2 separate regions of the Homo sapiens genome follow, and region 2 is linked to region 1. Evidence: fine-mapped expression QTL. A gene starts in region 1. The other region holds a variant in brackets. All regions are shown on one strand. Distances are between the middles of the regions.

Region 1 (5,381 bases):
GTTTTCTTCACATGTTGGACACCATCAGACCTTCACAACCAATGGACTCTAATTATTTTGCTTTCAAGCTTTGTTTTTGTTATTTCTTCTTCTAAAAGGCCATCTCCTGTCCTACCCTTCAAGATTCCAACATACTTTGGTTCTTCTGGAAAAATAACTACTTATCTTTTAAGACAAATCATCTTATCTTTGGTACCTGAGTCTAAGATGAAATTGGCCATTCAACATTATTCGAATATTTCTTGAGTGTCTTCTGTGTGCCAGACACTCGTGTCTCTGTTGACTCCTGCATCCTATGCAGACTTCTAAAAGAGCATCTGCAAAGCTTTCTTATCTTTCATTGTCTAAGTCATGCCTGACCCTGCTTCCTTCTGTTGGGCGGCAAAGATCATATGGCAGGGTCATGACACTCATTTCTCTTTATTTCCACACAGGTCCTGATGGAAAGAAGAGGTTCAGTAAATCTCAAAGTAAATACATACGTTTCTCTGAGCTCAGGGAAGGGAGGGTTAATAAAAATACACACAATGGAGATAATAATTCAAAAATTTTGGAAATAGACTAATGAACAGGGGAAAAAACATACCATTCAACATCAACAAAGAGAGTGAAGGGAGAGCAGGCAGTGTTCTGGGGACAGATACACCAAGCTGTGGGGTCTCAGAATTCTTTCAATGAGTTTTCAATAACTTTGTATTGGATCAGGCCGGATTTGAGGATTGGAGATTAAATTTTTTATGAGGCATATGGAAGGAAATATTATCAGTGATCATCATCATAGCTAACCCTGTGTGTCAAGAACTGTCTCAAGTGCTTTTGGTGAATTAACTCATTTAAATAGCCCCAAAAGCTTAGTGGTCCAATCACTATCCCTGAGACACAGAGGTGGCTCAACTTAACCATGGCCACACAGCTAGCAAGTAGAAGAGGCAGGATTTGAACCCAGGCTCCAAGCTTTGTTGTTTTAGTTGTATGCATTCCTTATTCTGTCTTGGAGTTGGGAATAGAACGTGAAGAGCTGGTAGGTACAGAAATAATAATGTTCTGAAGTCTGAACAAGTTCAATGGGGTTGCCTTGACTGGGTGCAGCAGCTCACATCTATAATCCCAGCATTTTGTGAGACTGAGGCAGGAGGATTGCTTGAGGCCAGGAGTTCAATACCAGCCTGGGCAACATAGTGAAACCCCATCTCTACAAAAAAAAGACAGGCGTGGTGTCATGACCTTAGAGTCCTAGCTACATGGGAGGCTGAAGTGGGAAGGTTGCTTGAGCCCAGTTCAAGGCTGCAGTGAGCTATGATCACGCTGCTGCACTTAAGCATGGGCAACAGAGCAAGACTCTGTCTCTTAAAGAAAAGAAAAATAACAACAAAAAACTGGTTGCCTTGGAAAGAAAGAATTTGCAAAGAATAGACTAGACTGGAGTTAGTCTCATTCCTTATCACACACACGCACGTGCACGTGCACACACACACACACACAATATTGCATCCTTTCTCAAAAGTCATTCTCTCCTGTGAGTTGCAAGGACAGCAACATCAGAAATGTACCAGTAACCAACTTCATTATACTACAGCATTGCTGACAGTTTGCATTTGGAGAATTTGACTAAAGACCACTTTGGGCTTCTTACCTTAAACAGTTACTTTTGTCACAAAGAAGGTGACGAGAAAACAGCAAGTAAGACAGAGCTCTCACTTCCTTCATCAAGCGGGATACATGTGCTGAGAGAATTGGAGCCACGATAGGGAGCAGTTTGTCTCTATGGAAAGTCTAGTGGTCTCTCCCCAGTGTCCCTTAGCCAGCCTCATACCATGGTGCTTTTCTTTCCTAGTGGAGCAGGATCCCCCAAAGAAAGGCCAGGCCCCTTTGGCCAGTGGGGCCCAGCGACACTTGGGTGCATCACCACCAACCGGATGGAGGGCTGGGCCTCGAGAGTGGCCTCGGGCGCGTACTCCTTACTGGGATCCTTGCCTCGGCAGTCGTATAGCACGCAGGAGATGAGGAAGACCAGGAGCAAGATGACGTAGCTCGCAACTAGGATGATCAGGTTCAAGGTAACAGGGTCGATCTCCAAGTAGAATTCCATCACTTCTCCCACGGTGGAGAAGTGGGTCTAGAGAAAGGCAATTGGGGTCAGTTTGGGCATTGCAGAGAGCAGATCTTAGAGCATCGGAATAGCTACATTGGCTCTGGAGTAAAAATACATTAATCCCTACTGCTCCAGGAGACCTCGAGGATTAAAGCTGCTCGGTTTAATAACTTAAGCTTGCTGTTAATACCACAGCCACCAAAACACAGAAGCTGTCTGTCATCAGTTCGCCTACACAGAGAGAGAAAGAGAGAGAGAGAGATGGCTCATGAGTTACTGGATCATGGTATATAAGTAGAGCATTCACATAATTCAGCATCCACACAGGCAGTTTGGTGAGCAAAAGTAAGTGTTGTTAATAAGCACTCCATGATGACAGCTAAAAATTGGATTGTCCTGGACAATTGTGCTGTCTTTGTATAAGGGATGTTTAGTGCCATGTATGGAGTGATTTGGAAGATTAGGTCAGTAGGCTTTGGAAGTAAATGTGATTCTTCAACAAGAAGAAGATACTAGTGCCTGATATTTTCACCCTTTCTTCATTTGTTGCCATGTTTCTCATTAGTTAATTCAAAACTACTTTTTGAGTACTTACTTCCTGTGTTTCAGACACTACACTAAGCAAAGGGGATATGGCAGTGATAAGACAGAGAAGCAGGTAGTCTAGCAGGAAAGATAGCCTTTAAACAGATAATTGCACAATTCGCCATTTAAGAACAGTGGAAATCAGTTTATAAGGGACAAATAGAGGGTAAGAGGACAGCGTGTCCCAGTGTGGGTCAAAAAAGCTTCCATGCAGAAGCAACATTTAACCTATGACCTGAAGGATAAGTAGAATTTAGCTAAGTGAGAAGAGACAGGGAAGATTCTTCTAGCCACAAAGAACTGCATATGTGAAGACCCGAAGAGAAAGGAGCCTGGAAAATTGCAAGCACTGAAACAAGGGCAGTGTGACTGGAGCATAAAGAGAATGGGAGCACAAGGTGGGAGAGGTAGACAGGGGCCAGAAGGCACAGGCACTTGTGGGCCATACTCAGGACTTTAGATATGATCCTAGAGCAATGGGATGCCATTGAATGCTTTTGCACAGGGGAGTGACACTACTGAATTTGCATTTTAAAGAGATTCCCAAAGGCTGCCTCAAGGATGCAGAAAAACAAGCAAATTGAGAGGAAGATCAGATACTGATCGGATTACAGTTATTCCTTGATGTACAAATCACTGTCCTGCCTCAGTTGTAGCCTGGTCCCAATAGTCCCGCATAGGCTACTTCATGGGCATGTGCCCTGTGCAGCTGCACAACGTTCCATTCTCAGAAAGAGCTCACACTTGGTTTAATGCTCTGCTGTTGCCATCTTGAAATTCTTAACTTTTCAACTTTGCACTGGGACCCACAAATTACGTATCTGGTCTTGGTCTCATATATGTATTTTTGGCCAGCTAGGGCATCAGTAGCCTTTTCTCCAATAGCTAATAGGACTTTTTGGATACTCCTAGTTAAAAGCTGAAGTTCCCAAAGGTCTGCTGGTTTCTTAGTGTTAAGCTTCAATGGGCTAGTGTCTTCCTGTCAGCCTCCTTTATACTGAGCTTCCATGGGAACCTGAGCATTTGAAGATGTTGTAGTATGGGGTTCTTATGCATCTGGAGACGTTTTTCCAAATAATATCGTCCATGATTCTATGGTCCTGGACTAACTTATGGAATTATAATCCAGAAGATGCATGATTCTGAAACACCATAGATTTAGGGTCAGCCTTATTGGAATCTATTGGGTCTCTTTTGAATACAGATACCTGGATCAACCCTAGATCTACTGAGTTAGAATCTTTGGGACTAGAGTCTGGGGATCTGTATTAATAAAAATCTTCATGGATAATTTTGATCTGCAACCAGGATGGAGAATCATGGCTATAAAAGTAGAAAAAAAGGACGTGAAGAAAATGGGCCAATATGCGGTCACCAGGGCTTTGGTGATCTGTGAAGAGCTATTCCAGGGGGCATTCAACACAGAATTCAACACTGTCCAAGGTTTTAAGTCCGACAGATTCAGAGAATTAATTTTGTGCTTGCAAGGACATAGCTTTTTCTTCCTGAAGGCAGATCTACAGGAAAAGTCCATTTATAATTGGAAAGTTTCTGGTAAGCACAGAATCACACAGCAAGTAGAGTTGTCTGTTGCATCTGTAAGTCACGTGCAATGCACCAGACAGAAGCGAGGCTTTAAAAGGCAGCATTATGTACCAGATGCCTACTTTCTTTTGCCCACTCGGGACTCTAGATTCGTGACTTCTATAGTAAACTGAGTCTGGATAGCCCAGGTGCCTCCATGTAACAATATTTAGGGGAGTTATTTGGTGACTTTAAATAGATGACACAAGGATTGGTTAAAATTGACTCTGAAATGAGAACTACATATAGTTTAGTCCACATTAAATTAAACTGAAATATATGCAACAGATCTGCTCTATTGAGTGGAGTTTTCATATCAGATCTAGGTTTCTCTGTGTAATGGTGATAATCATTAATCATGGTGAGTGATCTGGTCTGGCCTGTCTTCTTAGATTGCCCCCATTCTGCTGATACCCGTGGTGTCCCGGAATGTTTTGTTCAAGGCTATTGTCTTTGGTTCCAGTATCTTATTTCTATTAGCAGAGAGTTTTTTGTTTCTGTTTCCACCAGTGCTCAAAGTTCATTTGAAGTCCAGTCTCATGAAGGCTTCACTTCCTTGCAATGTCTTCGGTGAAATGCTGGGTGCTTGTTTTACTTAATTAACCTGGGTGGCTCCTTTATTCATACTGGGGCTAACCTCACCCATCTTTCCTTCTTTTGCTGTCTTTAAGGAACTTTCCTCTGGTGCCATCTAGTGGCCAAAGCAGGGGCTGCTAAATAAAGAAAAAAACTTGGCAATAGGCAAACTGGGACGGATGACAGGGTGACATAGGTAAAAACAATAACAAGCTGCATTTCAGAAGAACCCCTTGAGGTAGCCTTGACATACTAATTCCTTCGTTTATTACAAATATGAATTGTGCACTTACCATATGCTAGCAAGGTACTAAGCACTTTAGAGCTTGATAATGTGATACTGAAAGCACACTGTATAACAAATGTAGAGCTCAGAGGAAAAAAGGAATTATCAACCCAATTTTTTAAAATGAGAAAATTGAAGCTTAAAGAGGCAGTGGAATTGAATGAGCTTATTCTCATTCCCTTTTTCCCTCTCACCCTCTCATCTCTCTTTTCTACTGCATAAAATATGAATAAAACAGGTACATGCATAACTTATTCT
Region 2 (5,381 bases), 62 kb before region 1:
CAAAGTTCAAACAGAGTTAGATCCACAGGATAAAACAGCAGATAAGGCCATCTACAGAAGGGACTTACGAGGATGTGGCTAGATAATATTCAATGAGTGATGTGTTAACATTCTTTCCACCCATCCAGTTGTCATCTGAAAAACAACCTCAGGTCAGGAAATTAGCTCAGGGTAGACATGAGAAGCTAAGGTTTCTTCATAGGAGGTTTTTGCTTTGTCTGGAGATCAGTATTATCACTACTAATTTTTTCCTCCTATATGATAATTTATCACATGTCACACAGATGGGCTCAAACCCTGGCTTCCCCTAATAGTGGCTATGAGGCTTGAGACAATCAGTCTCTCAGTTTCCATATCCTTTTATTTTATTATAGTAAAATATACATAACATAAAATTTATCATTTTAACCATTTTTTTTTCTTCTTTGAGATGGACTCTTGCTCTGTCGCCCAGGCTGGAGTGCAGTGGCGCGATCTCAGCTCACTGCAAGCTCCGCCTCCTGGGTTCACACCATTCTCCTGCCTCAGCCTCCCGAGTAGCAGGGACTACAGGTGTCCGCCACCACGCCCGGCTAATTTTTTTGTATTTTTAGTAGAGACGGGGTTTCACCGTGTTAGCCAGGATGGTCTCAATCTCCTGACCTCGTGATCCGCCCGCCTCGGCCTCCCAAAGTGCTGGGATTACAGGCTTGAGCCACTGCACCCAGCCCATTTTAACCATTTTTAAGTGTACGGTTCAGTAGCATTAAGAACATTCGCAATGTTGTACAACCATCATCACTATCCATTTCCAGAACTGGTTCATCATCCCAAGCAGAAACTCTGTGCCCATTGAATGATAACTTCCATTCCCCTCCATGTGGCCCCTGGTAATCACTACTCTACTTTCTGTCTCTATAAAACTTGCCTGTTCTAGGTACCTCATGTAAGTGGAATCATATAATATTTCTCCTTTTGTATATCGTTCATTTCATTTAGCATAATGTCTTAAGGTTCATCCATGTTGCAGCATGTATCAGAATTTCATTCCTTTCTAAGACTGAATAATCTTTCATTATATATATATATATATATCACATTTTCTTTATCCGTTCATCTATCAATGGACATTTCAGTTGTTTCCACCTTTTGGCTATTATGTTCATATCTGTTAAAGGGGATGTAATATCTATTTCACAGATTGTTGTGAGGGTAAGATAACCAGGAAAAGGCCTGGTATATAGTAGGTGCTCAGTTAATGCTATGTTTTTTTCTCCCTGGCATAAGTTATTTATTTATTTATTTATTTATTTATTTATTTTATTTATTTTTGAGATGGAGTCTTGCTCTATTGCCCAGGCTGGAGTGCAGTGGGGCAATCTCGGCTCACTGCAAGCTCCGCCTCCCGGGTTCACGCCATTCTCCTGCCTCAGCCTCCCAAGTAGCTGGGACTACAGGTGCCCGCCACCACGCCTGCCTAATTTTTTTGTATTTTTAGTAGAGACAGGGTTTCACCGTGTTAGCCAGGATGGTCTCGATCTCCTGACCTCGTGATCCACCCGCCTCGGGCTCCCAAAGTGCTGGGATTACAGGCTTGAGCCACCACGCCTGGCCAAAAGTTCTTATATTTCCTTTAAGGCCCAAGTAAAGGAGTGTGATGAAAGGGACCGGATAATTCTTTTCCTATTTCTGTGCCTCTTTTGATTTCTCTGTTATAACTTCTCTAATTAATGCTTGGCTCTTCAAATTATTTACGGGAGGAAGTATTCCAGAGGATATGGTCGGGTGTTGGGAGGGGGAGGTGGGGGAGATGGGCAGGATGAGGGTAGAAGACAGAAACAGACATCCAGTTAGTTATATGTTGCTAAGCCTAAGAATATTTGCTGGCTGAAGGATCTGTTAACTTTTTCCAAAACGGTAATAGTGCTTACTGCAGAGATAGCGATCTTTGAAACTTGACCCTCCTTATTGCAAAAGCCCCAAGTGTTCAGATCTGGGCCATCAGGACTGGAAAATGAAGATGTTTTACCTCACTTCATCCTTTTCTTCTTCTAGGGCAGCTACTTCATGCCAATATGCAGTAGGATAGGGCAAAAGGTTGTGTTTTTCTTCTGTAACTTAAAGGAAATAATGTATTTCAAAGGATCCTGAGAAAGACCATATTTATTCTTGAATTCTTGTGGAATGTAAGTGGTATAAGGGCTTCTGGGGAAGCCAACTGTAGTAAGTCCCTCTCTTTAGAAAGCAAATGTCTAGACAGCTGGAGGGACCTGTCTATCCAGGGTCATAAACAAGTTGGTTTAGAGTAGGGACTAAAATCTTGATCACTTTACATCTAGCTAAGTATGTTCTTTTGTGCCTTACAGATCAACTGGTGTAAAGCTGATTTTCCAAACTTCGAGTTTTAAGGGAAATGGATAGGATACTCTTTTTTAAAATTATTTTTATTATTTTATGACAGAGTCTTGCTCTGACGCCCAGGCTGGAGTGCAGTGGCGCAATCTAGGCTCACTGCAACCTCCACCTCCCCAGTTCAAGTGATTCTCGTGCTTCGGCCTCCCAAATAGCTGGGACTACAGAATCATGCTGCCACGCCCAGCTCATTTTTTTGTATCTTTAGTAGAGAGGGGGTTTCGCCATGTTGGCTAGGCTGGCCTGGAACTCCTGACATCAAGTGACCTGCCCGCCTTGGTCTCCCAAAATGCTGGGATTACAGGAGTGAGGCACTGCGCCTGGCCCAGGATACTCTTACTAAAGGGTTTCTGGAAGTTTCTTTTGGGAGCAGCACTCATTGAGTAACCGTCTACTCTGTGCAAAGCCCAATATTGAGCACTATGAAGGAGAAATGAAAGAAACAAAAGTCATGGAATAGGGACCCTGGAAAAAGGAAAAATGGATACCTGAAAATATTATGCGGGTTTATTTGGGTTGGGGTGATCACTGATAGATAGATGCAATGGATTGAAGGATGATCCCCCAAAAGACACGCCCATGTCCTTATCTCCAGAAACTGTGACTATTATTTTATGTTGTAAAATATTGAACATGACTTTATATGACATAAGATATGATTAAGTTAAATCTTGACAGTAGGAGTTTTTCCTGGAGTACCCAGATGGACCCTAAATGCAATCACAAGTATGAAGAGAGGCAGGAGAAGTTTTGAGAGAGAAGAAGAGGCAGCAGTATGACCAGGTAGGTTAAGATTTCAGTGATGTGATCACAAGCCAAGGAACTCCTGGAACCACCAAAAGGTAGAAGAGGCAAGCAATAGATTTTCTCCTGCAGCCTTCGGAGGGAGTACAGCC[C/T]CTCTGACACCTTGATTTCATACTCCTGGCTTCTAGAATATGAAAGAAAAAAAATTTCTGTTGTTTTAAGACACTCATTGTGTGCTAAATTGTTACAGCAGTCAAGTGAAAACTAACAGCATATCTAATCTTTGACCTTTTACATTTCCTCGTTGCTTTCTCTCAAGGGGTGTGGGGCAAATTCCTTATTCTTTTCTATCTAGTTCTGCTGCCATCAGAAGCATAGAACATGGATCTCACAGTGTTGCAAGTAGATCACTTAGTCTCCTTTGGTTTCATTTCACAGAGAACATGGTGGAGGCTCAGAGAAGTGAAGCGACTTGCCCACATTTACACAGTTGCTGAGTGTGAGCCCAGACGTGGAACCCGGGTGCAATACCCAGATAGTACTCCTTGCTTTCTGCTTACAGCCTAGAGAGAGGGAACTTGCAGCTGAGTTAGGAGACAGAGGCTCACAAGCACAAGGCAATACTGGCAGAGCGTAGACAACAGGTTTAGGCACCCGTGAGTCTACACAGTAACACTGGAGAGTCCACCAACTTTACCTCCAAGAAGACATCTCTAATCTGCCCACTTCTTTCCATCTCCTTTGCCAGCAACTCTCTGCTTAAAGATCCATAGTGGCTTCTTTTTTTTTTGAGACGGAGTCTCGCTCTGTCACCGAGGCTGAAGTGCAGTGGCACGATCATGGCTCACTGCAACCTCCGCCTCCCGAGTTCAAGCAATTCTCCTGCCTCAGCCTCTTGAGTAGCTGGAATTACAGGCATGCGCCACCACGCCTGGCTAATTTTTGTATTTTTAGTAGATATGGGGTTTCACCATGTTGGTCAGGCTGGTCTCGAACTCCTGACCTCATAATCCGCTCTCCTCAGCCTCCCAAAGTGCTGGGATTACAGGTGTGAGCCACTGTGCCCAGCCCCTAATGGCTTCTTATCATCCATAGACTAAGACCCTAATTCCAGATGGTGGCATAACAGGACCCTATATGATCCAATACTCGCACCTTCTCCAACCTCATTTTCTACCAGTGTCTCCATCCATCACCCTCCTTCAGCACCTCCAGCTGGCTGACCTTGGGTTGCCCTTGAAGCAGGCCAAGATCTTTCTTGTCTTTGTGTCTTTGCACTTGCTCTTGTCTGCCTGGAATACTTTCCCCATGGCTCTTCCTGTGGCTGACTTATGTTTTATCTTCAAGTTCCAGCTCACATAGCTCCCCACAGAGGCTTTGAAGTGGCTGTTTCCTCCATATGTTTCTTATCACAGGCTGAAACAGTCTTGTTTATTTGTTGAGTGTCTTCTCTTGTCACTAGATTAAAAATGCTATGAAAATTCTTGAGAAAGATACACCCTCTTTGTACCTGGCACAGTGCCTGACAGTGTAGGTACTTAATAAATATCTGTTGAATGAATGAATTTACCAGTTTTCCTAAACTGGGCTACCTAAGGAATTTACTATATATTTCCTGCACAAAAGATTTAAGACTCTTTCTTTCCTCCTGAACAATGCATATCAAAGTCTCTGAAAAATTCTAAAGAAAACTAAATTTAGACTGTATGCAGGGGCTGATGCCTGTAATCCTAGCATTTTGGGAGGCCAAGGCAGGAGGACCACTTGAGGCCAGGAGTTCGAGACCAGTCTGGGCAGCATAGTGAGACCTTGTCGCCACAAAAAATAAAAAGATTTTAAAAATTAGACAGGCAAGGTGGTGGGTGCCCTCAGCAACTTGGGAGGCTGAGGAGGGAGGATCACTTGAGCCCAGGAGTTTGAGGCTGCAGTAAGCTATGATTGGGCCACTGTACTCCAGCCTGGGTGACAGCATAAGACTCAATCTCTACAAAAAAAAAAAAAAAAAAAAAAGGAAACACTTTTAATAAGCCTGGCATATTTGACCCACATATGGTTTTAATAAGCCCAAGTGTATTTGGCCATACATCCTATTGTTCAGGAGTTTGTGTAAATGTTCCTGAATATAGATGTTCCCCAGAACAGTTAGAGAACTCTTGGTGTAGAAACTGGTAACAGCTGAATCCAGTTAAATCACCAGTTCATTTGAAAATATCCAGTTGACTCCAGGCAGCAGTATGTGTGTATAC

Which allele goes with the higher level. Positions count from the first base shown, and alleles are read on the strand shown. Sizes are in standard deviations (SD) of each study's normalised expression.
In carriers of allele C in region 2, the expression in testis of the gene that starts at base 2,207 in region 1 tends to be lower than with T alone (small effect, 0.27 SD a copy in GTEx).

Evidence for each region. PIP is the estimated chance that this variant, and not a neighbour inherited with it, causes the effect.
Region 2: its variant is the best candidate, but not a certain one, in a credible set for the expression of SMIM36 in testis (GTEx, PIP 0.73).

What each region holds. Positions count from the first base shown.
Region 1 is chr17:55,509,246-55,514,626 of GRCh38, forward strand. SMIM36 (small integral membrane protein 36) reads right to left here and starts at 2,207. Exons shown (of 5, transcript NM_001395421.2): 1 at 1,634-2,207. The coding sequence starts at 2,089. The coding sequence ends at 1,808.
Region 2 is chr17:55,446,980-55,452,360 of GRCh38, forward strand. It overlaps SMIM36 (small integral membrane protein 36), which reads right to left. Exons shown (of 5, transcript NM_001395421.2): 5 at 2,877-3,319. Among named protein-coding and RNA genes, the nearest start is that of MMD, 28 kb to the left of the region's middle. The variant C/T (reference allele first, on the strand shown) is at 3,288.